Linked DNA regions of Homo sapiens: regions 1, 2 and 3 are each linked to region 4. Evidence: fine-mapped expression QTL. A gene starts in region 4. Each other region holds a variant in brackets. All regions are shown on one strand. Distances are between the middles of the regions.

Region 1 (5,735 bases), 130 kb after region 4:
GTTTGAGATTTAGGAGAACTATTACAATCGCTTTTACCTGTGTTGCTGAAGGAAGATAAAGTAGACTCTGTGGGTCTCGTCGTAGTGCTCTTTCCTCCCTGCTCGTCACACTGCAGTAACTGCAGTGCCTGGTATAGCAGTGGCCAGTGGGGCATTGTAGGGTGACCCACCAGCTCTCCTGGGAGGTCTCTCTTCTCACTTGATGCACTCAGGTCAGCTTGGCTGGGCAGGGATGTGACTTCTTACACTTCAGGTAGATGAGGACTCATGGACACAGAGCAACCTTATTTCCTCTTGCCATACTTTGCACGGTGATAAGCACACAGGTCCTTGAATGGAGATGCTCAGTCTCAGCGACTTAATTCAGAATATGCTTACTGGGAGTTCAGGGAGGGAGATGCAACAATTTTCCGTACTTCTGCCTCAGTGTCAGGTATTCTTTCTTGCCATATTTATTGATTGCCTGCTATGTGCCAGGCGCATGTATATATGCTGATGATGCACTGGTGAACAAAATGAAGTCTCTGCCTTCTTGGAGTATACATTCCAGTGGAGAAAGACATAGGTTTTATGCCTGGTGGTAAAGAATGCTGTAAGAGGCCGGGCGCGGTGGCTCACACCTGTAATCCCAGCACTTTGGGAGGCCGAGGTGGGCAGATCATGAGGTCAGGAGATCGAGACCATCCTGGCTAACACGGTGAAACCTCATCTCTACCAAAAATACAAAAAATTAGCCGGGCGTGGTGGCGGGCGCCTATAGTCCCAGCTGCTCAGGAGGCTGAGGCAGGAAAATGGTGTGAACCCGGGAGGCGGAGCTTGCAGTGAGCCGAGATCTCACCACTGCACTCTAGCCTGGGCGACAGAGTGAGACTCCGTCTCAAAAAAAAAAAAAAGAATGCTGTAAAACAGAATAAAGTAGAGAAGGGGGATAGGAATGGCAGTGGTGGGTCTTTTTAGATGGAGTATTCAGAGAAGGTCTGTCTGAGGAGTTTGAGCAGAGAACTGAATAGATGAGGGTGTTGGAAAGAAACGTTTTTGGGCATGGTGTAAAGGCATGCTTGAGGGATTCTAAGGAGGCTGGTGTGTGGCTGGAACTAAGTGTGGGGATGAGAGGTACTAGGAGATCACATGAGACCATGTAGGCCACTGTTAGCAGTGAGTACAATGGTAAATGAGTAGAAGGATTTTGAACAGCAAGATTGCTATGATCTTACTTAACACTTATAAAAGAGTCACTCCTATGACTTTTGTAGGGTGAGTAAGCTATAGTAATATCAATAGAAATGAACATGCTTTGCATTTGCCATGTGTCAGGTATTATTATTATTATTTATTTTACTTTTTTTTGAGATAGGGTCTTACTCTGCAGCCCAGGCTGGAGTGCATTGGCATTGATCATGGCTCACTGCAGCCACGACCTCCTGGGCTTAGGTGATCCTCCCACCTCAGCGTCCCAGGTAGCTGGAACTACAGGTGTACGCCACCACACCTGGCTAATTTTTTATATTTTTAGTAGAGATGGGGTTTTGCCATGTTGCCCAGGCTGGTCTCAAACTCTGAGTTCAAACAATCTACCTGCCTCAGCCTCCCAGTGGGCTGGGATTACAGGTGTGAGCCACCATGCCCAGCCTCATCATTCTTATTAACTGGTTTAATCCTTTCAATAATCCTATTAAGTAGAATTATTAGGTAATTAGAATTAGGTTAAAAAGAGCTGAGGTGTGGGTGTTCGTTTCTCAGGTGAAACATGGCTAAAAGCTTACGGAGTAAGTGGAAAAGAAAGATGCGTGCTGAAAAGAGAAAAAAGAATGCCCCAAAGGAGGCCAGCAGGCTTAAAAGTATTCTCAAACTAGACGGTGATGTTTTAATGAAAGATGTTCAAGAGATAGCAACTGTGGTGGTACCCAAACATTGCCAAGAGAAAATGCAATGTGAGGTAAAAGATGAAAAAGATGACATGAAAAGGGAGACTGATACTAAGAGAAACAAAAAGACTCTTCTAGACCAGCATGGACAGTACCCAATATGGATGAACCAAAGGCAAAGAAAAAGGCTGACGGCAAAGCGAGAGAAAAGAAAGGGGAAAAGCAAAGCAAAAGCAGTGAAAGTGGCAAAGGGTTTGGCGTGGTAGACTCTTAAAACCTTGGAAAATGCCACATGGGATAGATGATGGATTAGAATGTATATACATGTATACTTTGATTTCAGCTGCCACCAAATGAAAACCATTTGTTTTCCTATTTTAACTTGGCCTTTTTTCTTCAATTCAAACCCAGCATAACTCCTGAAGTTTGTTTTGGGAACTTGAATAAAATATTTTCTTTGATACAAAAAAAAAAAAGAATTAGGTTAAAAAGAATTAGGTAATTCTTTTTTTATTAGGTAGAATCCTGTTAGGTAGAATTATTTTATAGATGATAAAAGTAAGGGAAGTTAAACACCTTGCTCAAGGTCATTTGTGTAACAAGAATGAGTGCCAGCATTTGCACTCAGACAGTGTAGCTCTAGAGTGTGTGCCCTTCTCAAGTACTCCAGCATGAATGCAGAGTATTCGCACTGAGCCACAGAGGCAAGCAGTCAGGAGAGTACGCATCTGAAACGGTGCTGTGGGGTGTTGAACTTGCATGGTGAGTCGCATGTGGGATCAGCTTTCTAGAAGTATTGATTATGGCAGATTGAGATGGTAAAACTCTGACTCTCAGTCACAGATACCTTGAGAAATACTATATTATTAATATACTACTACTTGCTGGTGGGGGTTTGTGGAAGCTGTTGCAGTTGACAAGGTAAGAGATGATGGTGACTTGGACGAGTATAGCAGAGGAGTAGAAAGAAGTGGTCAGGGCCAGGCGTGGTGGCTCATGCCTGTAATCACAGCACTTTGGGAGGCCAAGGTGGGTGGATCACAAGGTTAGGAGTTTGAGACCAGCCTGGCCAACATAGTGAAACAAAAAATTAGCTGGGCATGGTGGCAGGCACCTGTAATCCCAGCTACTTGGGAGGCTGAGGCAGGAGAATCACTTGAACCTGGGAGGCAGAGGTTGCAATGAGCCAAGATTGCGCCATTGCACTCCAGCCCGGGCGACAGTGTGAGACTCCATCTCAAAAAAAGAAAAAAAAAAAAAAAAGAAAGAAAAAAGTTGTCAGATTAGGACAGGCACAGTGGCTCATACCTGTAATTTCAGCACTTTGGGAGGCCGAGGTGGGTGGATCACTTGAGGTCAGGAGTTTGAGACCAGCCTGGACAACATGGTGAAGCCCTCTCTCTACTAAAAATACAAAAATTAGCTAAACACAGTGGCACGTGCCTGTAATCCCAGCTGCTTGGGAGACTGAGGCAGGAGAATCACTTAAACCCGGGAAGCGGAGGTTGAAGTGAGCCAAGATCGCACCACTGCACTCCAGCTGTGTGACAGAGCAAGACTCCATCTCAAAAAAAAAAAAGAAGAAGAAGAAGTGGTCAGATTCAGGACGTGTTTTGAGGATAAGTGGTGGATTTAATGTAGGGCTTGAGAAAATGCCATTGTGTATGACTGACTGGTGTTTGAATCCTTTATCATATCCCAGGGCCGGTCTAGGACACATAATTGTGTGTGCCTAGGCATTCTTCCCAGTTTGTTGTGGCTGCCCTGCCCAAGCCCACATCACCTATTAGCTTCACGTCCTTCTCTCCGCAGCCACCAAAACCCTCAACAGGGGCATCTCTGAGTTCATCGTGATGGCTGCAGACGCCGAGCCACTGGAGATCATTCTGCACCTGCCGCTGCTGTGTGAAGACAAGAATGTGCCCTACGTGTTTGTGCGCTCCAAGCAGGCCCTGGGGAGAGCCTGTGGGGTCTCCAGGCCTGTCATCGCCTGTTCTGTCACCATCAAAGAAGGCTCGCAGCTGAAACAGCAGATCCAATCCATTCAGCAGTCCATTGAAAGGCTCTTAGTCTAAACCTGTGGCCTCTGCCACGTGCTCCCTGCCAGCTTCCCCCCTGAGGTTGTGTATCATATTATCTGTGTTAGCATGTAGTATTTTCAGCTACTCTCTATTGTTATAAAATGTAGTACTAAATCTGGTTTCTGGATTTTTGTGTT[G/A]TTTTTGTTCTGTTTTACAGGGTTGCTATCCCCCTTCCTTTCCTCCCTCCCTCTGCCATCCTTCATCCTTTTATCCTCCCTTTTTGGAACAAGTGTTCAGAGCAGACAGAAGCAGGGTGGTGGCACCGTTGAAAGGCAGAAAGAGCCAGGAGAAAGCTGATGGAGCCAGGACAGAGATCTGGTTCCAGCTTTCAGCCACTAGCTTCCTGTTGTGTGCGGGGTGTGGTGGAATTAAACAGCATTCATTGTGTGTCCCTGTGCCTGGCACACAGAATCATTCATACGTGTTCAAGTGATCAAGGGGTTTCATTTGCTCTTGGGGGATTAGGTATCATTTGGGGAGGAAGCATGTGTTCTGTGAGGTTGTTCGGCTATGTCCAAGTGTCGTTTACTAATGTACCCCTGCTGTTTGCTTTTGGTAATGTGATGTTGATGTTCTCCCCCTACCCACAACCATGCCCTTGAGGGTAGCAGGGCAGCAGCATACCAAAGAGATGTGCTGCAGGACTCCGGAGGCAGCCTGGGTGGGTGAGCCATGGGGCAGTTGACCTGGGTCTTGAAAGAGTCGGGAGTGACAAGCTCAGAGAGCATGAACTGATGCTGGCATGAAGGATTCCAGGAAGATCATGGAGACCTGGCTGGTAGCTGTAACAGAGATGGTGGAGTCCAAGGAAACAGCCTGTCTCTGGTGAATGGGACTTTCTTTGGTGGACACTTGGCACCAGCTCTGAGAGCCCTTCCCCTGTGTCCTGCCACCATGTGGGTCAGATGTACTCTCTGTCACATGAGGAGAGTGCTAGTTCATGTGTTCTCCATTCTTGTGAGCATCCTAATAAATCTGTTCCATTTTGATGACAGAATGGCAGTGCCTGATTCTTAGTAAGTATCCGGCTAAAATTGGAATGAAGACATACTTAGCTTTACTAGAGTGGTGATAGCTGCTTAAGACTTTTTTTTTCTTCTTTGTGAAAGAGTTTCACTCTTGTTGCCTAGGCTGGAGTGCAATGGCACGATCTCGGCTCACTGCAGCCTCTGCCTCCTGGGTTCAAGTGATGCTCCTGCCTCAGCCCCCAAAGTAGCTGGGATTACAGGCGTGCGTCACCACGCCCAGCTAATTTTGTATTTTTAGTAGAGACAGGGTTTCACCATGTTGGCCAGGCTGGTCTTGAACTCCTGACCTCAGGTAATCTGCCTGTCTCAGCCTCGCAAAGCGCTGGGATTACAGGTGTGAGCCACCACGCCTGGCCACTTGCTTAGACTTTTTTTTACCAGAAGGCTATGGAAGAGCTGTCTCCTCCTACCAGGTAGTTTCTACCTTGGCAGTTCAAAATGTCGTCTTATACACACTCAACTGGAGCATTGCTATCACTGGAACTGGCTTTCTCAACCTCCGTGCTGTTGACATTTGGGGCTGGTTAATTTGTTGTGAGGACTGCCCTGTGTGTTGTATGTTTAGTAGCATCACTGGCTTCTACCCGCTAGGTGGCAATAGCAGCACCCCCCCACAACCAAAAAATGTTTCCGGACATTGTTAAATGCCCCCGGCAGTAAAATCACCCCCAATTGAGAATCACTGTTGGAGAATCAGGGTTTCTAGTAACCCTTGGCACATGCAGGATTGGTATTGGTGACTAAAGCCACTGCCCCCTCAC
Region 2 (7,646 bases), 65 kb after region 4:
TTCCTGCCCAAAAGGCACTACTGGTCCCCTCTAGCAGTGTCCTGCTGGAAGACTTCCAGCTCAGCATAGATGCCTCTGATTGACATTGCTCTTACTTATGCTTTTGTTACCTTGTTGGTTTACTCATCCCTCCCACTCTAGAATTCATGTCCTAGATTTAGAGATTCAAATTCAGGGAAGGACAAAGGAGGAAAGAAGACAGACTGAAGTCACTGTCACGTAAATGCTATTTTTTGTTTCAATTTTTAGAACCAACCTAGAGTCAAATCACAAAGACTTAAATATAGTTACAGAAGAGACTATAAATATTAACAACTTTCACAATGTAAAATTAAAGGTATAGCTGACTGGCCTTGAGAAGTAGAAGTAGGGAAGAGAGGGGAAAAGAAGAGTTGGGGTGCTGCTAACCACGTAGGAACTCAGGAGACACTGCTTCAAGTTGAGGGAACAAGAAATACCAGTTTTAGGTACATTATTTAAAGGTTAAAAACAAAATATTAAATAGCAAAAATGCCAAGGACATGTAGAGAAGACAAAAAATGTGAGCTAATTAAATATTGATCTTTCTAACTGGCAAGTCAATGAATAATGTCTTAAATTTAAGACGGGAATTACAGGCACTCGCCACCACGCCCAGCTAATTTTTTTTTTTTTTGTATTTTTAGTAGAGACAGGGTTTTGCCATGTTGGCCAGGCTGGTCTTGAACTCCTGACCTCAGGTGATGCACCTGCCTCGGCCTCCCAAAGTGCTGGAATTACAGGCGTGAGCCACCATGCCCAGCCTATTCCTTTTCATGATAAATCCTCTATAATTTATTTATTTATTTTCAAGAGAGGATCTCACTCTGTCACCCAGGCTGGAGTGCAGCGGTGTGATCATAGCTCACTGTAACCTCAAACTCCCAGGCTCAAGTGATCCTCCCGCCTTACCTCCCAAGTAGTTGGGACCATAGGTGCATGCCACCACACCCAGCTAATTTTATTTATTTATTTTATTACTTATTTATTTATTTATTTTTTTTTTTGAGACAGAGTCTTGCTCTGTCACCAAGCTGTAGTGCAGTGGCGTGATCTTGGCTTACTGCAACCTCCAACTCCCTGGTTCAAGTGACTCTCCTGCCTCAGCCTCGCAAGTAACTGGGATTACAGGTATGTGCCACCACGCCCAGCTAATTTTTGTATTTTGGTGTTTTGTTTTGTTTTGTTTTTGAGACAGAGTCTCGCTCTGTTGCCCAGGCTGAAGTGCAGTGGCATGATCTCGGCTCACTGCAACCTCCGCCTCCCAGGTTCAAGCGATTCTCCTGCCTCAGCCTCCTGTGTAGCTGGAATTACAGGCACCCGCCACTGTGCTCAGCTAATTTTTATATTTTTAGTAGAAACGGGGATGAACCACGTTGGTCAGGCTGTTCTCGAACTCCTGACCTCGTGATCCGCCCGCCTCGGCCTCCCAAAGTGCTGGGATTACAGGCATGAGCCACCACACCCAGCCTAATTTTTGTATTTTTAGTAAAGATGGGGTTTCACCATGTTGGCCAGGATGGTCTCAATCTCCTGACATTGTGATCCACCCACCTCGGACTCCCAAAGTGCTGGGATTACAGGCATGAGCCACTGTGCCTGGCCTATTTTATTTTATATTGTTTTGTAGGGATGGGGTGGCGCTATGTTGTCCAGGCTAGTCTCAAACGCTTAGCCTCAAGCGATCCTCCTACCTTGACTTCCCAAAGTGCTGGGATTACAGGCGTGAGCCACCGTGCCCAGCCAATATTTTGTTTTGTATTATTTGAATACATTACTGTGTTAGAAAATTAAAAGAGAAAATATGGTAACAAAATAAAAGTTACTCTATAAATATGGGTTTCCTCGGTTATTATTATTATTTTTTAAGATTTCAAGCACCTTGCTAAGGAATAATTTCCCATTGTGGTGCTAGGATCCCTTAGTCTCACTGTCCATTTTAACATCCTACATTCGCATATTGACTACCTATGAGGAGCCAGAGACAGAGCAGTGAAAAAACTGACAAGGTCCTTTAGCTCCTGGAGCTTATATTTTAGTGGGGGGAGGCGGGGTACAAAACAAATGAATAGGCCAGGTTCAGTGGCTCACGCCTGTAATTCCAGCTATTTGGGAGGCTGAGGCAGAAAAATTGCTTGAACCCAGAAGGCAGAGGTTTCAGTTAGCTAAGATCGCATGACTGCACTCCAGCCTGGGTGACGGAGTGAGACTCTGACCCCTCACCCCCCAGAAAAAAAGAGGCCGGGCGCGGTGGCTCACGCCTGTAATCCCAGCACTTTGGAAGGCCGAGGCAGGCAGATCATGAGGTCAGGAGATCGAGATCATCCTGGCTAACACACTGAAACCCCTTCTCTACTAAAAATATTTTTAAAAATTAGCTGGGCGTGGTGGTGGGCGCCTGTAGTCCCAGCTACTCAGGAGACTGAGGCAGGAGAATGGCGTGAATCCAGGAGGCGGAGCTTGCAGTGAGCCGAGATCGCGCCACTGCACTCCAGCCTGGGCGACAGAGCAAGACTCCGTCTCAAAAAAAAAAAAGAATAAACAATAACTTTCAAATGTTTGATAGGTGCTATAGCAGTCTGATAAGGTCAATTAGGAAAGGAAATTCTGAATGAGACTTGAATGATAAGAAAAACGCAGTCACACAATGATTTAAGGGAATATTATTTTGGGCAGAGTTGGAATAATTAGTGGCAGGAATAAGTTTGATGTGTTCAAGAAACAGAAAGCAGATCAGAGGAATGAACAAGAAGTGACTGAGTACTGTTTGTGGAGCCAGGGACCCAAATCTAATTCTTTAGATCCCAAATTGGGTGTTTTTCTCTATATGCTAGTAGCATGGACAAATTGAGATTGAAGGTTCTGGAATAAAGCACCAGGCAGTTGGAAATGTGGTCTGGAGTTCAGGAAAACACTATAGTGGGCTGAATGGTGGTACCCAAAGATGTCAGGTCCTAATCCCAGGAACCTATGTTATTTTCTACAGTAAAGTTTTCACAGAGAATCCTGAGATAAAGCCATTATCCTGGATTATTCAGGTGGTCCCCTACATCCCATCATAAGTAGCCTTATGAGAGAGAGGCAGCCAGGCATAATGACTCATGCCTGTAATCCCAGTACTTTGAGAGGTCAAAGTGGGAGGATCACTTGAAGCCTGAAGCTCAAGACCAGCCTGGGGAATATAGCAAGATCCCTATCTCTACAAAAAATAAAAAAAAATTTTTTGGCCAGGCGCGGTAGCTCACGCCTGTAATCCCAGCCCTTTGAGAGGCAGAGGCACGCAGATCACAAGGTCAGGAGATCGAGACCATCCTGGCTAACACGGTGAAACCCTGTCTCTACTAAAAATACAAAAACAAAATTAGCCAGGGATGGTGGCAGGCACCTGTAGTCCCAGCCACTCGGGAGGCTGAGGCGGGAGAATGGCGTGAACCCGGGAGGCACAACTTGCAGTGAGCTGAGATCACGCCACTGCACTCCAGCGTGGGAGACAAAGCAAGACTCCGTTTCAAAAAAAAAAAA[AG/G]AAAAAGAAAAAAGAAAAAAATTTAAGAAAAGAAAGAGAAAAGGCAGAGGGAGATTATACACATAGAGAAGAGAAGACAATGTAGTCACAGAGGCAGTGATTACAGTGATATGACCTTAAGTCATGGAATGCCCGGAGCCACCAGAAGCTGGAAGAGGCAGGGAAGTGTTCCGTATTAGAAGCTCCAAAGGGAGTGTGGCCCTGCTGACACCTTGATTTCATTTCAGTGATACTGATTTTGGACTTCTGGCCCCCTAGAACCATGAGAAGGTAAATACCTGTTGTTTTCAAGTTTGTGGTAATCTGGTCCTGTAGCAATAGGAAACTAACACAGGCATTTTAGGCAAGAACTATAGATTTGAGCATTATCAACATATAGCTAGTAGCTGAAGCTCTGTGAGTGGCTGAGAGCATTCAAAGAGGAACTACAGTAAGAGAACCAGGGCTAGAGGCTGGAGTTCATAGGTGTTAAAGAGCTGCCAGCTTCTGATTAAAGGTGATGGAGTCAACAGATACAGTTACCTCTGCTACTCCTTACCAAAATGAAAGAGAATTTTCTTTCAAGATATAAATTCAAAACAACAGAGAAAATACAAAAGACATGATAACATAACACTTTGGAAGTATAATTTGGCCCTCTGTATTGTGGATTCTACATCTATGGATTCAATCAACTGTGGACCAAAAATATTTTTTAAAATCTATAAAAAAAATAACAATATGGCTGGGCACGGTGGCTCACGCCTGTAATCCCAGCACTTTGGAAGGCCAAGGTGGGGGATCACCTGAGGTCGGCAGTTCGAGACCAGCCCGCCCAACATGGAGAAACCCCGTCTCTACTAAAAATACAAAATTAGCCGGGTGTAGTGGTGCATGCCTGTAATCCCAGCTACTCGGGAGGCTGTGGCAGGAGGAGAATCACTTGAACCCGGGAGGCAGAGGTTGTGGTGAGCCGAGATCATGCCTTTGCACTCCAGCCTGGGCAACAAGAGCAAAACTCCATCTCAAAAAAAAAAAAAAAAAAAAACACTTTGGGAGGCCGAAGCGGGCGGATCACGAGGTCAGGAGATCGAGACCATCCTGGCTAACACAGTGAAACCCCGTCTCTACTAAAAATACAAAAAAATTAGCCAGGTGTGGTGGCGCGCGCCTGTAGTCCCAGCTACTAGAAAGGCTGAGGCAGGAGAATGGCGTGAACCTGGGAGGCGGAGGTTGCAGTGAGCCAAGATCACGCCACTGCACCCCAGCCTGGGTGAAAGAGGGAGACTCCATCTCAAAAAAAAGAAAAAAATACAATAAAAAAATATATAAAATGTAGGCCAGGTGCAAGTGGCTCATACCTGTAATCCTAACACTTTGGGAAGCCGACACAGGTGGATCACCTGAGGTCAGGAGTTCGAGACCACCCTGGCCAACGTGGCGAAACCCCATCTCTACTAAAAATACAAAATTAGCTGGGCATGGTGGCACGCACCTGTAGTCCCAGCTACTCGGGAGGCTGAGGCAGGAGAATTGCTTGAGCCTGGGAGGCAGCAGTTGCAATGAGCCAAGATCACACCATTGCACTCCAGCCTGGGCGACAGAGCGAAACTTCATCTCAAAAAAAATTTTAAATACAGCATGACAACTATTTACATTCCATTGTTTGTTTGTTTGTTTTTGAGATGGAGTCTCACTCTGTGGCCTCAGTCTGGAGTACAGTGGCAAGATCTCAGATCACTGCAACCTCCGCCTCCCAGGCTCAGATAATTCTCCTTCCTCAGCCTCCTGAGTAACTGGGATTACAGGCAAGCGCCATCATGCCCAACTAATTTTTGTATTTTTAGTAGAGACAGGGTTTCACCATCTTGGCCAGGCTGGTCTTGAACTCCTGACTTCAGGTAATTGGCCCGCCTCAGCCTCCCAAAGTGCTGGGATTATAGGCGTGAGCCACCGCGCCCCGTCTACATTGCATTGACATTGCATAGTCGTCCCTCAGTATCTGTGGGGAATTGGTTCCAGGACCCCTGAAGATACCAAAACCAGGATGCTCAAGCTCCTTACATAAAATGGTATAGTATTTGCATATAACCTATGCACATCCTCCAGCATACTTTATTTATTTTATTTTATTTTATTTTATTTTTTGAGACAGAATTTCACTCTGTTACCCAGGCTGGAGTATAATGGTGTGATCTCCACTCACTGCAACCTCCGCCTCCCAGGTTCAAGCAATTGTCCTATCTCAGCCTCCTGAGTAGCTGGGATTACAGGTGTGTGACACCACATCCGGCTAATTTTTTATATTTTTAGTAAAGACAGGGTTTCTACATGTTGGCCAGGCTGGTCTCAAACTCCCGACTTCAGGTGGTCCGCCGACCTTGGCCTCCCAAAGTGCTGGGATTATAGGCATGAGCCACCGCACGTGGTCCTCCAGTATACTTTAAATCATCTCTAGATTACATATAATACCTAATACAATGCAAATGCTATATAAATAGTTATTATACTGTTTGGGTGTTTTGTTTTGTTTTGTTTTTGAGACAGAGCCTTGCTCTGTCACCCAGGCTGGAGTGCAGTGGCGCAATCTTGGCTTACTACAACCTCTGCAGCAATTCTCGTGCCTCAGCCTCCTGAGTAGCTGGGACTACAGGCATGCGCCATCATGCCCAGTTAAGTTTTTGTAGAGATGGGATTTTACTACATTGGCCAGGCTGGTCTCGAACTCCTGACTCAAGTGATCCACCTGCCTTGGTCTCCCAAAGTGCTGGGTTTACAGGGATAAGCCACTGTGCCTGGCCTGGTTTCTTTTTTTCTTTTTTCTTTTGAGACAAGGTCTCACTCTGTCACCCAGGCTGGAGTGCAGTGGTGTGATCTCAGCTCACCGCAACCTCTGCTTCCCAGGTTCAAGCAATCCTCCCACCTCAGCCTTCAAGCAGCCGGAACTATAGGTGTGCACCAACATGCCTGGCTAATTTTTGGATTTTTAGTAGAGACAGGTTCTGTTGTGTTGCCCAGGCTGGTCTTGAACTCCTGGGCTCAGGTGATCCAACCCACCTTGGCCTCCCAAAGTGCTGGGATTACAGGTGTGAGCCACCATGTCCAACGTATACTGTATTGTTTAGGGAATAATAACAAGAAAAAAAGTCTGTACGTGTTCAATACAGACACAACCATCCATTCTTTAAAATTTTCAGCTGGATGCGGTGGCTCACGCCTGTAATCCCAGCACTTTGGGAGGTTGAGACAGGTGAATCACCTGAGGTCAGGCGTTCGAGACCAGCCTGGCCAACATGGTGAAACCTCGCCTCTAATAATAATACAAAAATTAGCTGGGCATGGTGGTACACACCTGTAATCCCAGCTACTTGGGAGGCTGAGGCAGGAGAATCACTTGAACCCAGGAGGCAGAGATTGTAGTGAGCTGAGATCACACCATTGCACTCCAGCCTAGGCAACAAGAACAAAACTCCATCTCCAAAAAAAAAAAAAAAAAAAATTTTTCAATCCATGGTTGGTTGAATCCATGGATGTGGAATCCACAATTATGAAGGGCCAACTATATTAGGTATTATAAGTAATCTAGGGATACTTAAATATCCGCTACCCTGGCCTCAACAGGCCCTTAGGTATATGCAGGGATGGAAAGTTCAGCCTGCCTGGGTCTCTCACCTCAGAAAAGCAGAAGTGGCCTTCAAGGCCTCAGCAGCCACCTCCAGCACAGGGCTGCTAACTGCTTCTTGGAGGGCACGGCCAGCATCTCTGCACATGGCTGAGCTTGTGAACAGCTTGATCTCCTCTGGCTGCCTGAGAAATGGAAGATGAGAAACGAGTAGGTGAACTCTTCTCACTGACCCCACCAGGAGTGAAAGCCCACTTTTCCTTCTGCAGTCTGGCCCCTACAAGCCTCATGTTCCACCACTTTGCTCACCGGGTCAGGATTTCAGCGAAAAGCAGCAGGCCCTGCTTGTGCAGCTCTATGTTGTTCATCTTCAGGCTTCCCTGCAGGCTCCTCACCACTGCCTCGATCCCTACCACAGGATGACATGACAGAGGCCAGGGATCAGTGCTCTCTTGTTCCTTCACTGCCCACCCAGAAGAGGTGACAGGCTCTGGACAGCATGTA
Region 3 (7,646 bases), 41 kb after region 4:
TTTGAGTGGAAACAGAAAGGCATAGTGGAAGTGAATGGGTTTTCAAGTAAGACACACCTGGGCACACAATGTCCTGTTGTCTCTCTCTTTGTGCTAGTAGCAGCCACTGGTGATCATTGCCTAGATCCACTAATTAATTAGGGATTACAAAACAATAATATTCTAGTTCTGTCATTATCTGTTTATTAACTTAAATACTTGTATAAAAGGAAACTTCCAGCCGGGCACGGTGGCTCACGCCTGTAATCCCAGCACTTTGGGAGGCCGAGGCGGGCAGATCACGAGGTCAGGAGATTGAGACCATCCTGGCTAACAGGATGAAACCCCGTCTCTACTAAAAATACAAAAAATTAGCCGGGTGTGGTGGCGGGCGCCAGTAGTCCCAGCTATTCAGGAGGCTGAGGCAGGAGAATGGCGTGAACCCAGGAGGTGGAGGTTGTGGTCAGCAGCGATCCTGCCACAGCGATCCTGCCACTGCACTCCAGCCTGGGTGACAGAGCGAGACTCCGTCTCAAAAAAAAAAAAAAAAAAAAAGGAAACTTCCCCTCATTAACTATTCAGTTACTCTGAAGGGTTAGATTAGATTACATAGGAAACATAGGTTAAGTGCTTGATTCTTTTCCTGTGGTTACCAGTTTTCAAAAACATGAGTTTGTTGCATAGCATCCTCCAAAGGTGACCAAAGAGTTGTTGTTTTTTTTTAATTTTTAATATTTTGTAGAGACAAGGTCTTACTATGTTGCCCAGGCTGGTCTTGAACTCCTGGCTGAGGCAGGAGAATCGCTTGAACCCAGAAGGTGGAGGTTGCAGTGAGCCGAAATCACACCATTGCACTCCCGAACTCAAGTGATCCGCCCACCTCAGCCTCCCAAAGTGCTGGGATTATAGACGTGAGCCACCGTGCCCAGCCTCAGTCCCGATTTTCTTATCTGTAGAATGCAAATAATCTCTTCCTCCCAGGAAGGCTGAGATAATTAGGTAAATTATACAGGCTCTGTATGAGTCTGCATCCTACTCCTCTCCACACTCCTAACACCTCCGCTTTGTCTCTCTCTACCACCCGCTTGTCTATACACTATCATCATCATGGTCTCCCAGGGAACACTAATGTAAAGAGGTACAGAAGGACAAGGAGCCCAGGCATTGTGGTCCATACCTCACGTAGTGTATTGTCTTTGTCCTGGCAGATTGCAAGCAGATAGATGGAGGCTTTGAAGACCACCAGTGGGGGGCGCTCGCCCTGGTCCTGCAGCGACAGGAGGAAGCTTTGCACAGCCTCAAATAACTCTGCCTCTGAGACAAACCTGTCAACCAAGAAAAGCCTGAGTGAGAAAGGCAGAGTTGGCAGGCCACTGGGCTCTTCTATTCTGCCTGGCCGCATCCTTCCTCAGCCCACTGTCCTGCCCCAATATGCCCACAGCCTAATGACATCTTAGACAAACAGTGTGCTATACATACTTACAAAGCACTGCCATATATATACATCACATTGTTCTGTGCCTTGTGCAAGGCTCAGTTAGGGGCCAAATACTCCTCATTCACACTTGGGAGGTGAGCTATCTGCCAGCTGGACCAGCAGTGTTAAAGAGAAGGGTGCTACTGCTGGGGTTCAGAAGGCCCTGCTCTGGCAGCTGCTCCACCCCTCTCTTCTTGTATTTATCATTAAACAGTGGTGTATTTAACAGATATAACACCAAAAGCATAAATGACAAAAGAAAAAAATGGATAAATTAGAGGTCATCAAAATTAAAAACATTTGTGCTTAAAAGATACCACTAAGAAAGTGAAAACGGCCAGGTGTGATGGCTCATGCCTAGAGTCCCAGCACTCTGGGAGGCTGTGGTGGGAGAACTGCTTGAGGCCAGGAGTTCGAGACCAGCCTAGGCAACATAGTCAGACCTCTTCTCTACAAAAAAAAAAAAAAAAATCAGTTAAATTAGCTGGTTGTGTAGACGCATGCCTATAGTCCCAGCTACATGGGAGGCTGAGATGGGAGGATCGCTGGAGCCCAGGAGGTTGAGGCTGCAGCGAGCCATGATTGTGCTACTGCAATTCAGCCTGGGTAAGAGAGCAAGATACAAAAGGAAAGGAGAGGAAGGGGGAAGGGGAAGGTAAGGAAAAAGGGAGGGTAGAGTAGGGGAGGGGAAGTAAGAGGAAGGGAGGTGAAGGGAGGGGAGGGAAAAGAGGAAAGGACAGGATAGGACAGGACAGGAATGGAAAGGAAAGGAAGAAAGAAAGAAAAGAAAGCGAAAAGACAGCAAACAGGAGGCCAGGTGCAGTGGCTCACGCCTGTAATGGTAGCATTTGAGGAGGCCAAGGTGAGAGGATTGAGAATATACCCAAAAAGAATTAAAAACACTACTCAAACAAATACATGTACACACATGTTTACAACAGCACTATTCACAATAGCCAAAAGGTGGATAGGCCCAAATGTCCACCAATAGGTGAATAAAAGCAAATTATGGTGTATACATACAAAGGTATATTAATCAGCCATAAAAGGAATGAAGTACTGATACACGGTACAAACATTATGCTCACTGGATGGACTTCTAAAATGATATGCTAAGTGGAAGAAGCCAGACACAAAAAGTCACACACTGTATGATTCCATCTATGTGAAATATTCAGAATAGGTAACTCCAAAGAGACAGAACAGATTGTTGATTGCCAGGAGCTGGGGAGGAGGAACGGAAGTGACAGCTTTGCAGTGATGGAAATGTTCTAGAACTAGATGAAGGTGGTGGTTGTGCATTTTAAAGGTACTATTAAATACCACTGAATTGTTCACTTTAAAATGGTCAAGCTTATGTTGTGTAAATTTTACCTTAATAATTTTTTTTTTCTTTTAAGACTGAGTCGGCCGGGCGCAGTGGCTCACGCCTGTAATCCCAGCACTTTGGGAGGCCGAGGCGGGCAGATCACGAGGTCAGGAGATCCAGACCATCCTGGCTAACACAGTGAAACTCCGTCTATACTAAAAATACAAAAAATTAGCCGGGCGTGGTAGCGGGCACCTGAATTTCCAGCTACTCAGGAGGCTGAGGCAGGAGAATGGCGTGAACCCGGGAGGCAGAGCTTGCAGTGAGCCGAGATTGGGCCACTGCACTCCAGCCTGGGCGACAGAGTGAGTCTCCGTCTCAAAAAAAAAAAA[AC/C]AAAAAAAAAACACTGAGTCTCACTCTGTCGCCCAAGCTGGAGTGCAATGGCACAATATCAGCTCATTGCAACCTCTGCCTTCCAAGTTCAAGTGATTCTCCTGCCTCAGCCTCCCCAGTAGCTGGGATTACAGACGCTCGCCACCACACTCAGCTAATTTTGTATTTTTAGTAGAGACTGGGTTTCACCATGTTGGTCATGTTGGTCTTGAACTCCTGAACTCAGGTGATCCACCTACCTCAGCCTTCCAAAGTGCTGAGATTACAGGTGTAAGCCACCGCACCCGTGAGGGAAGAGACAGACCCTCTCATATTGTTTTATATTGTTTTCTACTCAGTACCTGTTTTAAGAAAAAAAACAAAGAAGTGAAATCAAAGCCAGGCAGCCCGGCGCCAGGCCCAAAACCAGGCCTGGGCCTGCCTGGCTTAAACCTAGCGGTTAAAAATCAACTCATGACTTAGAACCCGATGTTACACATATATTTCAGGCATTGTATGGAAGAACACTGTGAAACTCCCTGCTCTGTTCTGTTTCACTCTGACCGCCGGTGCATGCAGCCCCTGCCACGTACCCCTTGCTTGCTCAAATCAATCACGACCCTTTCATGTGAAATCTTTAGTGCTGTGAGCCCTTGAAAGGGACAGAAATTGTGCACTTGGAGAGCTCAGATTTTAAGGCAGTAGCTTGCCAATGCTCCCAGCTGAATAAAGCCCTTCCTTCTACAATTCGGTGTCTGAGAGGTTCTGTCTACGGCTCGTCCTACTACACCCAGCCAATAAATTATTATTATTAATTAATTATTTATTTTTTGAGACAGAGTATCACTCCGTCACCGAGGCTGGAGTGCAGTGGCACGATCTCAGCTCACTGCAACCTCCGCCTCCCGGGTTCAAGCAATTCTCCTGTCTAAGCCTCCCCAGTAGCTGGGACTACAGGCGCCTGCCACCACGCCCGGATGATTTTTGTATTTTCATTTTTATTTTTTTTATTCTTTTTTTTATTTTTTTTTGAGACAGAGTCTCTCTCTGTCGCCCAGGCTGGAGTGCAGTGGCGCGATCTCAGCTCACTGCAAGCTCTGCCTCCCAGGTTCACGCCATTCTCCTGCCTCAGCCTCCCGAGTAGCTGGGACTACAGGCACCCACCACCACGCCCGGCTAATTTTTTTGTATTTTTAGTAGAGACGGGGTTTCACCGTGTTAGCCATGATGGTCTCGATCTCCTGACCTCGTAATCCACCCATCTCGGCCTCCCAAAGAGCTGGGATTACAGGAGTGAGCCACTGCACCCGGCCTGATTTTTGTATTTTTAGTAGAGATGGGGTTTCACCTTGTTGGTCAGGCTGGTCTCAAACTCCTGACCTCAGGTGATCCACCCGCCTCGGCCTCCCAAAGTGCTGGGATTACAGATGTGAGCCACCGTACCCGGCCCAATAAATTATTTCTTACGGCTTAAGAAAGAACAGTCCTTTTATTTTTATATCCTTTTTGAGATGGAGTCTCACTCACTCTGACACCCAGGCTGGAGTGCAGTGGCATGAGCTTGGCTCACTCCAACCTCCACCTCCTGGGTTCAAGCAATTCTCCTGTCTCAGCCTCCCGAGTAGCTGGGACTACAGGCGCCTGCCACCATGCCCGGCTGATTTTTGTATTTTTATTTTTATTTATTTATTTATTTATTTATTTATTTTTTGAGACGGAGTCTCGCTCTGTCGCCCAGGCTGGAGTGCAGTGGCACGATCTCGGCTCACTGAGAGCTCTGCCTCCCGGGTTCACACCATTCTCCTGCCTCAGCCTCCCGAGTAGCTGGGACTACAGGCACCCACCACCATGCCCAGCTAATTTTTTTGTATTTTTAGTAGAGACGGGGTTTTACCTTGTTAGCCATGATGGTCTCGATCTCCTGACCTCGTGATCTGCCCATCTCGGCCTCCCAAAGAGCTGGGATTACAGGAGTAAGCCACCGCGCCCGGCCTGATTTTTGTATTTTTAGTAGAGACAGGGTTTCACCTTGTTGGTCAGGCTGGTCTCAAACTCCTGACCTCAGGTGATCCACCCGCCTCGGCCTCCCAAAGTGCTGGGATTACAGGTGTGAGCCACTGCACCCGGCCCAACAAATTATTTCTTACAGCTTAAGAAAGAACAGCCCTTTTATTTTTATTTTTATATCCTTTTTGAAATGGAGTCTCACTCACTCTGTCACCCAGGCTGGAGTGCAGTGGCACAATCTTGGCTCACTGCAACCTCTGTCTCCTGGGTTCAAGCAATTCTCCTGTCTCAGCCTCCAGAGTAGCTGGGATTACAGGTGTGCAACACCATGCCCGGCTAATTTTTGTATGTTTTGTGGAGACAGGGTTTCGCCATGTTGGCCAGGCTGGTCTCGAACTCCTGACCTCAACTGATCAGCCCACCTTGGCCTCCCAAAGCATTGGGATTACAGGCGTGAGCCACCATGCCCAGCCATGATTTTAAAAATGTAATAAATTGAACAGTAATGATTAAAACCAAAGTAACCTACTGAAGTTTTTTTCTGTGGACAAACAACACCCTCAAGGATAGCAAGGAATACTCACTGGCTTTCTAGGCCTCTGTCTCTCAGCACAGTGTCTACCCACCTGTTCTAACCCACTTCTAAGATATGAGCCTCTCAGGGACACAACCCATTTCTTACTTATCCCCGTGTCCCCAGTGCCCAGCATCAGGCTTGGAGAGATGCCCTTATTTATTGAACTGAACTGCTGATGAAGGTCCCAAGACCCACCACCAGCCACCCACCTCTGTGCACTGACCTGTCTTCATGGATGTAGGCCAAGTAGAAGAGGAGCAGGATGCAGTACTGTCTCTGGCGAGCAGCTCCCTCCATGTACTGGCGATCAGACAGGAAGGCAAGGCTTTCAGGGCTCCTGCTGCTTATCTGGGGCAGCCCATGCTGCAGGAGCTCAGACACTGCAGAGAGTTCTAGGGAGGGAATAAGTAGAGGAAAGCCACACAGAGAACATAGAAGAACAGGTAATCAGCACATTAGTACCTACTACATGCAGAGTACTGCACAGGGCAGCAAGGGTAAATGCAGTATAGTGGGAAATAAGGAAATCAGAGGCTCCTCTTCCTTTGAGCAAGGTTCAACCTACCGGGAAAGACTAAACTTCACAAGCAGAAGGACATGGATATGTCTCAAAAATTAACGTTCATTCCTTTTTTGTTTTGTTTTTCTTTTGACAGAGTCTCGCTCTGTTGCCCATGCTGGAGTGCAATGGCATGATCTCGGCTCACTGCAACCTCCCCGTTCTGGGTTCAAGCAATTCTCCTGCCTCAGCCTCCCAAGTAGCTGTGATTACAGGCACCCACCACCACGCCCAGCTAATTTTTTGTATTTTTAGTAGAGGCAGGGTTTTGCCATGTTGGCCAGGCTGGTCTCAAACTCCTGACCTCAGGTGATTCACCCACCTTGGCCTCCCAAAAACATTCATTCTTTCATTCATTTGACATATGTTCATTGAGTGGCTACTACTCAGGACAGGCTGTGAGACCCAGGCCCTACCTCCAGGAACTGGCAGCTGATGGGAAGAGACACATAATGAGACAGGCAATTGCAGGACATGTGATCAGCGCTATATTGAGGAGGGAGTGACTCAGGCTGCCTGGCATGGGGAAGGAAAGGTCAAAGAGGAAGAAACTGTGGGCCAGGCTGTAATCCCAGCACTTTGGGAGGCTGAGGAGGGTATATCACCTGAGGTCAGGAGTTCAAGACCAGCTTGGCCAACATAGTGAAACCCCGTCCCTACAAAAATACAAAAATTAGCCGGCTATGATGGCGGGCGCCTGTAATCCCAGCTACTTGGGAGGCTGAGGTGGGAGAATCGCTTGAACCTGGGAGGCAGAGGTTGCAGTGAGCTGAGATGGCACCATTGCACTCCAGCCTGAATGACAAGCGCGAAACTCCATCTCAGAAAAAAGAAAGCAAGCTTTGGGAGGCCGAGGCTGGCGGATCACGAGGTCACGAGATCAAGACCATCCTGGCTAACACGGTGAAAACCCGTCTCTACTAAAAATACAAAAAAATAGCCAGGCGAGGTGGCGGGCCCCTGTAGTCCCAGCTACTTGGGAGGCTGAGGCAGGAGAATGGCGTGAACCCAGAAGGCGGAGCCTGCAGTGAGCCGAGATCATGTCACTGCACTCCAGCATGGGCGACAGAGCGAGACTCCGTCTCAAAAAAAGAAAGAAAGAAAGAAACAAACTGTGGAGGGTGAGGAGAAAAGAGGCAGCGACAGGAGAAAAGAGAAAAGGAAGCAAGGTGTTCAGAGGCCTGAAGGCATGAGAAGACATGCCATGTTTCCATTCAGTGTCACTGGATAGTCAGTGAATAGATGTGGGGTGTCAGAAGCTGGGGAACTATGTGATGTAATCTGCAGTTGGACTGTGAAAGACCTTTAAGCAAATGCCACTTAAGGAATTGGGACTTCATCCTGAGGGCAGAGACTTCTAGATTTC
Region 4 (7,646 bases):
TCTCTCTCTTTTTTTTTTATTTTGAGACAGAGTCTCACTCTGTTGCTCAGGCTGGAGTGCAGTGGCACGATCTCAGATCTTGCAACCTCCACCTCCCAGGTTCAAGTGATTCTTGCGCCTCAGCCTCCCCAGTAACTGGGATCACAGGCGAGCACTACCATGTCTGACTAATTTTTGTATTTTTAGTAGAGACAGCGTTTCACCATGTTGGCCAGGCTGGTCTCGAACTCCTGGCCTTAAGCGATCTGCCCACTTTGGGCTCCCAATGTACTGAGATTACAGGCGTGAGCCACTGTGCCCAGCCTGTTCTCTCTTATAACAGAATACAACAAATATTGCTTATATTACCAGGGCTTTAACTAGAATATCATACTTGAGAATGTACATAGAAAGCCTGCCTTCAAAGATTCCCAGCCTTACAGTGAATGAGTAAAATCTGTCACTTCCTGGCAGGCCCAGGAACCTTAAGACTGTTAAGTAAAATCTAAAGTCTGCCTTGGTTTTGCTTCCTAGCCTTAAATGGTTTTTAAATCTGTTATTCCTATGTGATCACTGTAAAGAGAAAATTTTGTTTCTAAAAAAAGCTATAGTACATCTGTTATTAGACTGCAGCCCTGTGCATTGTTTTTGAGTTCTCATTATCTACTTGTATACTGGACTAGCTCCTGAATTCTAGATTCCTCCAATCTAACTTTCTTTCATGAAATTATTAAAAATTGGCACTGCTCTGTTCCTGAAGCCCTGTAAGTTGAAACTAGATGAACTTTAAGGTACAAGCCTTGTGCCTAATGTATGGGTCACACAGGAAGTTCACCAAACATCCCAATGCCATAACCAGAGACATTCAAACTGCAAACCAGGATAAGAAGTTGATGGTTTCATACTGTAGATAGCTTTTCCGAAGACACTGGAACAAGATTCCATATCATTTTGAGACTCTTACTCGTTTCTTTTTTTTTGAGTAGGAGTCTGGCTCTGTCGTCCAGGCTGGAGTGCAGTGGTGCAATCTCGGCTCAATGAAAGCTCCACCTTCCAGGTTCACGCCATTTTCCTGCCTCAGCCTCCCGAGTAACTAGGACTACAGGTGCCCGCCACCACGCCCGGGTAATTTTTTTTGTATTTTTTGTAGAGACGGGGTTTCACCATGTTAGCCAGGATGGTCTCCATCTCCTGCCCTCGTGATCCGCCCGTCTCAGCCTCCCAAAGTGCTGGGATTACAGGCGTGAGCCACCACGGTGGGCCTCTCAGAACTATTATGCAAACTGAGATTATCACATTGCTATTACTTCCTATTTTCCTATTTATTTATTTTACATTATTTTTGGAGACAGAGTCTCACTCTGTAGCCCGAGCTGGAGTGCAGTGGCACCATCTTGGCTCACTGTAACCTCTGCCTCCCGGGTTCAAGTGATTCTCCTGCCTCAGCCTCCCGAGTAGCTGGGATTACAGGTGTGCATCACCATGCCTGGCTAATTTTTGTATTTTTTGTAGAGACGAGGTTTCATGATCTTGGCCAGGCTGGTCTCGAACTCCTGGGTTCAAGCAATCTGGCCATCTTGGCCTCCCAAAGTGCCAGGATTACAGGGGTGAGCTATCGTGCCCAGCCCTATTTTCTTTTTAAACTTTATACCTATTACTTTTTAAATTTTTGTTGAAGTATCACTCCTGACAGAATAATGCTGGCCCAGAAGTTTGCAATGACAGCAAATGCCTATGGAACAGCCAAAATTGAACTTAACAATGAACTCCAGGTAGACATACCTTGAGAGCCACTCCTTCCAAACCTCCCTTGCTGCTCAAATGTGGCTAAAAGGTATTTGGGGTTTTTTGAGGCAGGGTCTCGCTCTGTCACCCACGCTGGAGTGCAGCGGTACAATCATAGCTCCCTATAACCTGAAACTCCTGGGCTTAAGTGATCCTCTACCCAACTGACTCCCGCACACTCCCCAACCAATGCCCAGATAACTTTTTTTTTTTGAGACGGAGTTTCGCTCTTGTTGCCCAGGCTGGAGTGCAATGGTGCGATCTCGGCTCACCGCAACCTCCACTTCCCAGGTTCAAGCGATTCTCCTGCCTCAGCCTCCCTAGTAGCTGGGATTACAGGCATGTGCCACCACGCCCGGCTAATTTTTGTATTTTATTTTATTTATTTTTTATTTTTTTATTTTTTATTTTTTTGAGACAGAGTCTTGCTCTGTCGCCCAGGCTGGAGTGCAGTGGTGCGATCTCGGTTCACTGCAAGCTCTGCCTCCTGGGTTCACGCCATTCTCCTGCCTCAGCCTCCCAAGTAGCTGGGACTACAGGCACCTGCCACCACGCCCGGCTAATTTTTTGTATTTTTAGTTGAGATGGGGTTTCACCGTGTTAGCCAGGATGGTCTCGATCTCCTCACCTCATGATCCGCCTGCCTCGGCCTCCCAAAGCGCTGGGATTACAGGTGTGAGCCACCGCGCCCGGATGTTATTTATATATATTTTTGTATTTTAGTAGAGACGGGTTTCTTCATGTTGGTCAGGCTGGTCTCGAACTCTCAACCTCAGGTGATCCGCCCGCCTTGGCGGTTGCCCAGGCTGGTCTTGAACTTCTGGACTCAAGTGATACTCCCTCCTTGACCTCCCAAAGTACTGGGATTACAGACGTGAGCCCCTGCTCCCAACCACTACAAGGGTTTTGACACTGACTCCTAGTCACCAGTCTCCAACTGGAGACTCCTAGTCTCCAACATGGCAAGAGACCAACAACCCAAGATAGGTCCGTCCCAGCACTGAGGGACCTAACTACAGGATGACTGATCAGTAAAGTTTTTGGAGAAAGATCTTGACCAAAAGGGGGAAATATGAAAGTTGTTAGAATCAAAACAGAGTCGTTTGTGTTAAAAACTCTGACAAATTTAAAGCATGATTCTCCAATGGGAAAAAACAAGAACAACAACTCTGACAAATAAAACCGAGGAAGGTTGTGAAAAGAGGGTTCTTATGCACAAATGACTGATAACAAGATCACAAAAAATGCAAAAACCACAACCCTGCACAAAGGCCACTGCAAACTTACACAGAAAAATCTTTCTGTGAGGACATCTGCCCTGCAACTGCCTGTCCAACCTCAGACTAGCACCACTCTTGCTATTCATCCTTGTAGCCAAGGATAACTATCTCAAAATAATCATGTAATCCTCATTTTTCCTTTTCAAAACCTTTGTCTTCCTTTACCTCCCCAAATACGTACACAGGTTACTATGGCACACATATTGTCACTACAATGTCTATTCCCAAGTAAACATCATTTTTTTAGAGTCTCTCACTCTGCTATTTAGGTTGACAGTACCTACCACACTCTAGGCACTGTTCTAGAGGCGGGAATACAGCAATAAATAAGCAAAAATCTCTGCACTCATGGTACTTGTCTCTAGTAGGGATAAGAGTTGATCAATAAACTTGTAAAATAAGCACAGAGGGATGAGAGGGTGTCGGTCAGGTACAAGATTACATAAAGTGGTCAGGAGAGGTCTCACACTCAGATTACAACTCCCCAATGTTACCAATGTGAAATCAAGGCACAGAAAAATGAGGTGACTGCCCAAAGTCACACAGCTATTCCCAGGCTGAACCAAGTGTCTGTTTGGCTCTAAGTCCAGTGCTCTGTCTTCTGACTCTTTGTAAATGAGCACAGGCTACCTGAGATCAGAGCTGGCTACTGAACTACCAGGACACCTGCCCCAGGGGAGAGATGCTCAGTTACAGACAGTGAGGGGCTGCAGAGATCATCCGGAGAACCCCCTACCCCCAAGCAGACGAGATAAGTGAAACCTAGAGAAGGAATAGTCCAAGTTCACCCAGGACCCTCCACATTCCACCTCCTGCTCCAAACTCAAGGGAACCAGAACCAGGCTAGGGCAAAACTTTAGGGGCCAAGGAGAATACCAGACAGCTGGCAATGACTGAAGCAGGTAGTGGGAAAGAAAAGCCAGAACAGCAGCCTGCGGGACAGGTCCTGCTTTCTCTACTGTTAAACTCACTTTTTCAGCCTCTCAATCCCGATCCTGCCGTATGCGTCACCCGGAGCTCCTCCTGGCTCAGCATGAGGCTCTGAACTCCTGCAGAGGTACCAGGTAGTGGCGGGCCTTGAGCCAGCTACCGGGGTCGGGGGCCCAGGTGGTTGACCCCGAGCCTTCGGAGCTCCCGGAGGAGGGAGCGAGCCTTCTCAAGGAACAGAGGCGTCCAGGTCCACGAAACTCCCTCCCCACCACCTGCAGCCGGTTCGAGGCCCTCGGTTCTCTCATTATCCTTCCCGGGAACCTGCAGCCCGCGGCCCCTACAGCCACCTACCTGGCCAGTCGGTGCAGGAAGGGCAGGTGGCCGAGTCCTGTGCGAGCAGCTAGGCTCGAAGGTCCAACAGGCTAACAGCAAAGCAACTGAAAGCGGGAGCAAACGGCTAGCAACCGAGCGCAGACCGCCGAGCTCCGTCCCGCCCACCGCGCTGCTCCCGGCCAATGAGCGCGAGCCGCCACTGCGGGGCTCCGCTAGCCTCACTTCCGGCCCCGCTCCACCGCCCCTGCCTGCCCCTCCAGGCTCTGGCGTGCCTCCAGCGCGCTGTGGGCACCATCCTCGTCCTGTCCCTCCTGCGGGCCCTGGGTACGTGGCCCTGGATTTAGCTTGTGTTGGAGGAAGTTAAATCTGTGGGTGGGGTCTGTGCCCAATTTAAGGCGTGAATCAGCAAACTGGGGTCCCAGCTCCTGTCGGCCGGGCGACCTTCTGCGCGCCCTCCCTGAAACTGTGTCGTCGTCTGTGGCCGAGTTTTTAAACTTTAGATCGCAACGTGAGTTTAGTGGGCGGTGACTAGCACTTTTGTTCTTCTTTAAGGACCTCAGAGACTCAGTGCAGGATTCGGGCATCCCCTCCTTGCCCCTCCGGTCCACCAACTAATAAGCCAAGTGCGGCGGGGGCTTCCTCGTCCGTTCGTTAGGCCGAGTGCAGCCCCACTTTTGCGCAGGATCAGGACAGTCAGACCCGAGAAGGCAGCGTGGCGTGGCCATCTCCGGGCCCGGGGCCCCTGCCGGGCGGGAAGGGAGCTGGAGGCCCGGTCTGGGCTGAGCTCCCCAGAACAGGCGCAGGGCAGGCACTGTCGAGCGCAGACCTCATGCCGGGGACCAAGCTGGACATGCATTCCCAGGATCTACCCACGAGGGTGCATAAACACCAGTTCTGATGACGGCTGTACGGGAAGGGACAGAGGTGACCTACTTTAGCCAGACAAGGGCTGAGGCTGGGACAGTTTCGTTCTGATAGGAAAGCTGAGAATTTGACCCTCCTTGCCTGGAAAGTTTACCTCTATCCACCTCCACGTGAGGCGAGGGAGCAGGTCAAGTGCCTCTGGGAGCTGTTGAATCGCAGCAGCCCCAACCCCTAGGCCTTTCTCTGCCCTGCCAGCCCCAGGATGGCCTGACTGGTGTTCTCTGAGTACAGCTGAGGCACCCAGCTGACTCCTTGAATGCTGTTACAAGAACAAATCCTGTCCCGTCCCTCCTTCCCTGAGGAGGCCATCAGTCTCCTTGCTGAAACAATCCCTTATCCAACTGGCTGAGAAACCAGCTCCTGGTAGACAAGGTAGTACAGTGTTTTTGGAGAGCTCGCGCAGGTATGTGAGTGTATCATTTTATTTCCTTATTCTATTTCAACAATAGAGTATATGGCTCCATATGAATAGCTTCAGCTGTCATCCATTTCCCCAACAATTATGCCCTTTGTCTCCAGGTCTCATTCTCTCTCCACTTCTGGGCCTTCAAGTCCTGAGGATCAGTTTCTGATGTGGGACAGGGATACAGCCACCCCTCCCAGGCAGCTGGCAGCAAAACATGAGAGGAAAACAGCAGAGAAGTGGGGCCAACCATGGGGGCATCACACTTCCAGAGCCCAAAACAGTCAAGAATGGTCAGGCAAGAACAGAAGTGCTCCTGAGAATAGTGGGATGGATTCTGAAATTGGGTCCTGAACACCTGGGCTAGGTAGTTGCTATTCAACAGGGAACTATTGCACGGAAGGGGCAAGGAAGAGAGCCAGGGAGGCAGCCAGAGGGGTGCAGAGGAAGCAAACTACCCTCACACACACCTCTGGACTGCAGTATCTCTGGACTGCAGTGTCTCTGGGTGCAACCAGCCACCTACCAGAGGGTCTCTGACCACTGCCACAGCCCCAAGCTTGCTTTTTTTTTTTTTTTTTGAGACATAGTCTCACTCTGCCACCCAGGCTGGAGTGTGCAGTGGCACAATCTCGGCTCTCTGGTCACTGCAATCTCCACCTCCCAGGTTCAAGTGATTGTCCTGCCTCATCCTCCCAAGTAGCTTGGATTACAGGCATGCACCACCATGCCCGGCTAATTTTTGTATTTTTAGTAGAGATGGGGTTTTACCATGTAGGCCAGGCTCGTCTCAGAACTCCTGACCTCAAGTGATCCACTCACCTTGGCTGGGATTACAGTGTGAGCCACTGCGCCCGGCCCCCAAGCTTTCTTTTTTTTTGAGACGGAGTCTTGGTCTGTTGCCCAGGCTGGAGTACAGTGGCGCGATCTTGGCTCACTGCAGCCTCTGCCTCCCAGGTTCCAGTGATTCTCCTGCCTCAGCCTCCTGGGTAGCTGGGATTACAGGCTCATGCTACCACGCCCAGCTAATTTTTGTATTTTTTAGTAGAGATGGGGTTTCACCATGTTGGCCAGGCTGGTCTCAAACTCCTGAGCTCAGGTGATCTGCCCACCTTGGCCTCCCAAAGTGCTGGGATTACAGGCGTGAGCCACTGCACCCGGCCATCCAAGCTTTCTTAAGAACATGGAAGTCACACAGACACACACACATTGTGTGTGTGTGTGTGTGTGTGCACCTGGCCATCCAAGCTTTCTTAAGAACATGGCAGTCACAGAGACACACACTATGTGTGTGTGTGTGTGTGTGTGTGTGTGTGTGTGTGTGTGTGTGTGTGTGTGTGTTGGGCTGAGGATCACTTGAACCAACTGCGCTTGGACAACTGTCTCCAAAGCTCATGGGGGAAGGACTAGCTCCTTTCTGAGTTCGGTGATGTAGCTTTGGAGACAGGCAAATCTGAGGTCAAATCCTGATTGTATCACTAGCTCTGTGATTCTGGGCACGACTGAATGTCTCTGGCCTCAGTTTCGTTATTTGGAAAGGGAGTAGGAATAATAACAGACACCAATATAACATTCACACCAAGCCAGGAGCTGTTTTTGGTGCTTTACATATATTAACTCATTTAAGTCCTTGCTACAACCCTAGGAGGTAGGTACAGGTTGAGTATCCCTTATCCAAAATTCTTGGGACCAGAAGTGTTTTGTATTTCAGATTTTTTTTCGAATTTTGTAATATTTGCCTATAATAATGAGATATGTTGGGGATGGGACCCAAGTCTAAACACAAAATTCATTTGTTTTATATACACCTTGTACACATAGCCAGAAGGTAATTTTTTATTTTTTTGAGACGGAGTCTTGCTCTGTCGCCCTGGCTGGAGTGCAGTGGTGCAATCTTAGCTGACTGCAACCTCTGCCGCCCAAGTTCAAGCAGTTCTCCTGTCTCAACCTCCTAAGTAGCTGGGATCACAGACGTGTGCCACCACAGCCGACTAATTTTTGTATTTTTAGTA

What was found. PIP is the estimated chance that this variant, and not a neighbour inherited with it, causes the effect.
Region 1: its variant is the best candidate, but not a certain one, in a credible set for the expression of CCDC134 in whole blood (INTERVAL, PIP 0.59).
Region 2: its variant is the best candidate, but not a certain one, in a credible set for the expression of CCDC134 in whole blood (INTERVAL, PIP 0.67).
Region 3: its variant is the best candidate, but not a certain one, in a credible set for the expression of CCDC134 in monocytes after LPS (Fairfax 2014, PIP 0.52).

Annotation. Positions count from the first base shown.
Region 1 is chr22:41,673,138-41,678,872 of GRCh38, reverse strand. It overlaps SNU13 (small nuclear ribonucleoprotein 13), which reads left to right. Exons shown (of 3, transcript NM_001003796.2): 3 at 3,678-4,940. The coding sequence ends at 3,940. LOC107985567 (protein LLP homolog) reads left to right here and starts at 1,713. Exons shown (of 1, transcript XM_047441692.1): 1 at 1,713-3,671. The coding sequence starts at 1,748. The coding sequence ends at 2,131. The variant G/A (reference allele first, on the strand shown) is at 4,084.
Region 2 is chr22:41,732,150-41,739,795 of GRCh38, reverse strand. It overlaps MEI1 (meiotic double-stranded break formation protein 1), which reads right to left. Exons shown (of 31, transcript NM_152513.4): 10 at 7,452-7,551; 11 at 7,193-7,327. Among named protein-coding and RNA genes, the nearest start is that of MEI1, 36 kb to the right of the region's middle. The variant AG/G (reference allele first, on the strand shown) is at 3,541.
Region 3 is chr22:41,756,832-41,764,477 of GRCh38, reverse strand. It overlaps MEI1 (meiotic double-stranded break formation protein 1), which reads right to left. Exons shown (of 31, transcript NM_152513.4): 18 at 5,945-6,113; 19 at 1,157-1,304. Among named protein-coding and RNA genes, the nearest start is that of CCDC134, 40 kb to the left of the region's middle. The variant AC/C (reference allele first, on the strand shown) is at 3,158.
Region 4 is chr22:41,797,446-41,805,091 of GRCh38, reverse strand. It overlaps CCDC134 (coiled-coil domain containing 134), which reads right to left and starts at 4,413. Exons shown (of 7, transcript NM_024821.5): 1 at 4,326-4,413. It overlaps MEI1 (meiotic double-stranded break formation protein 1), which reads right to left. Exons shown (of 31, transcript NM_152513.4): 31 at 5,638-5,838. The coding sequence ends at 5,793. RefSeq lists silencers at 4,391-4,450, 5,041-5,130 and enhancers at 4,601-4,680, 4,751-4,830, 4,606-5,592.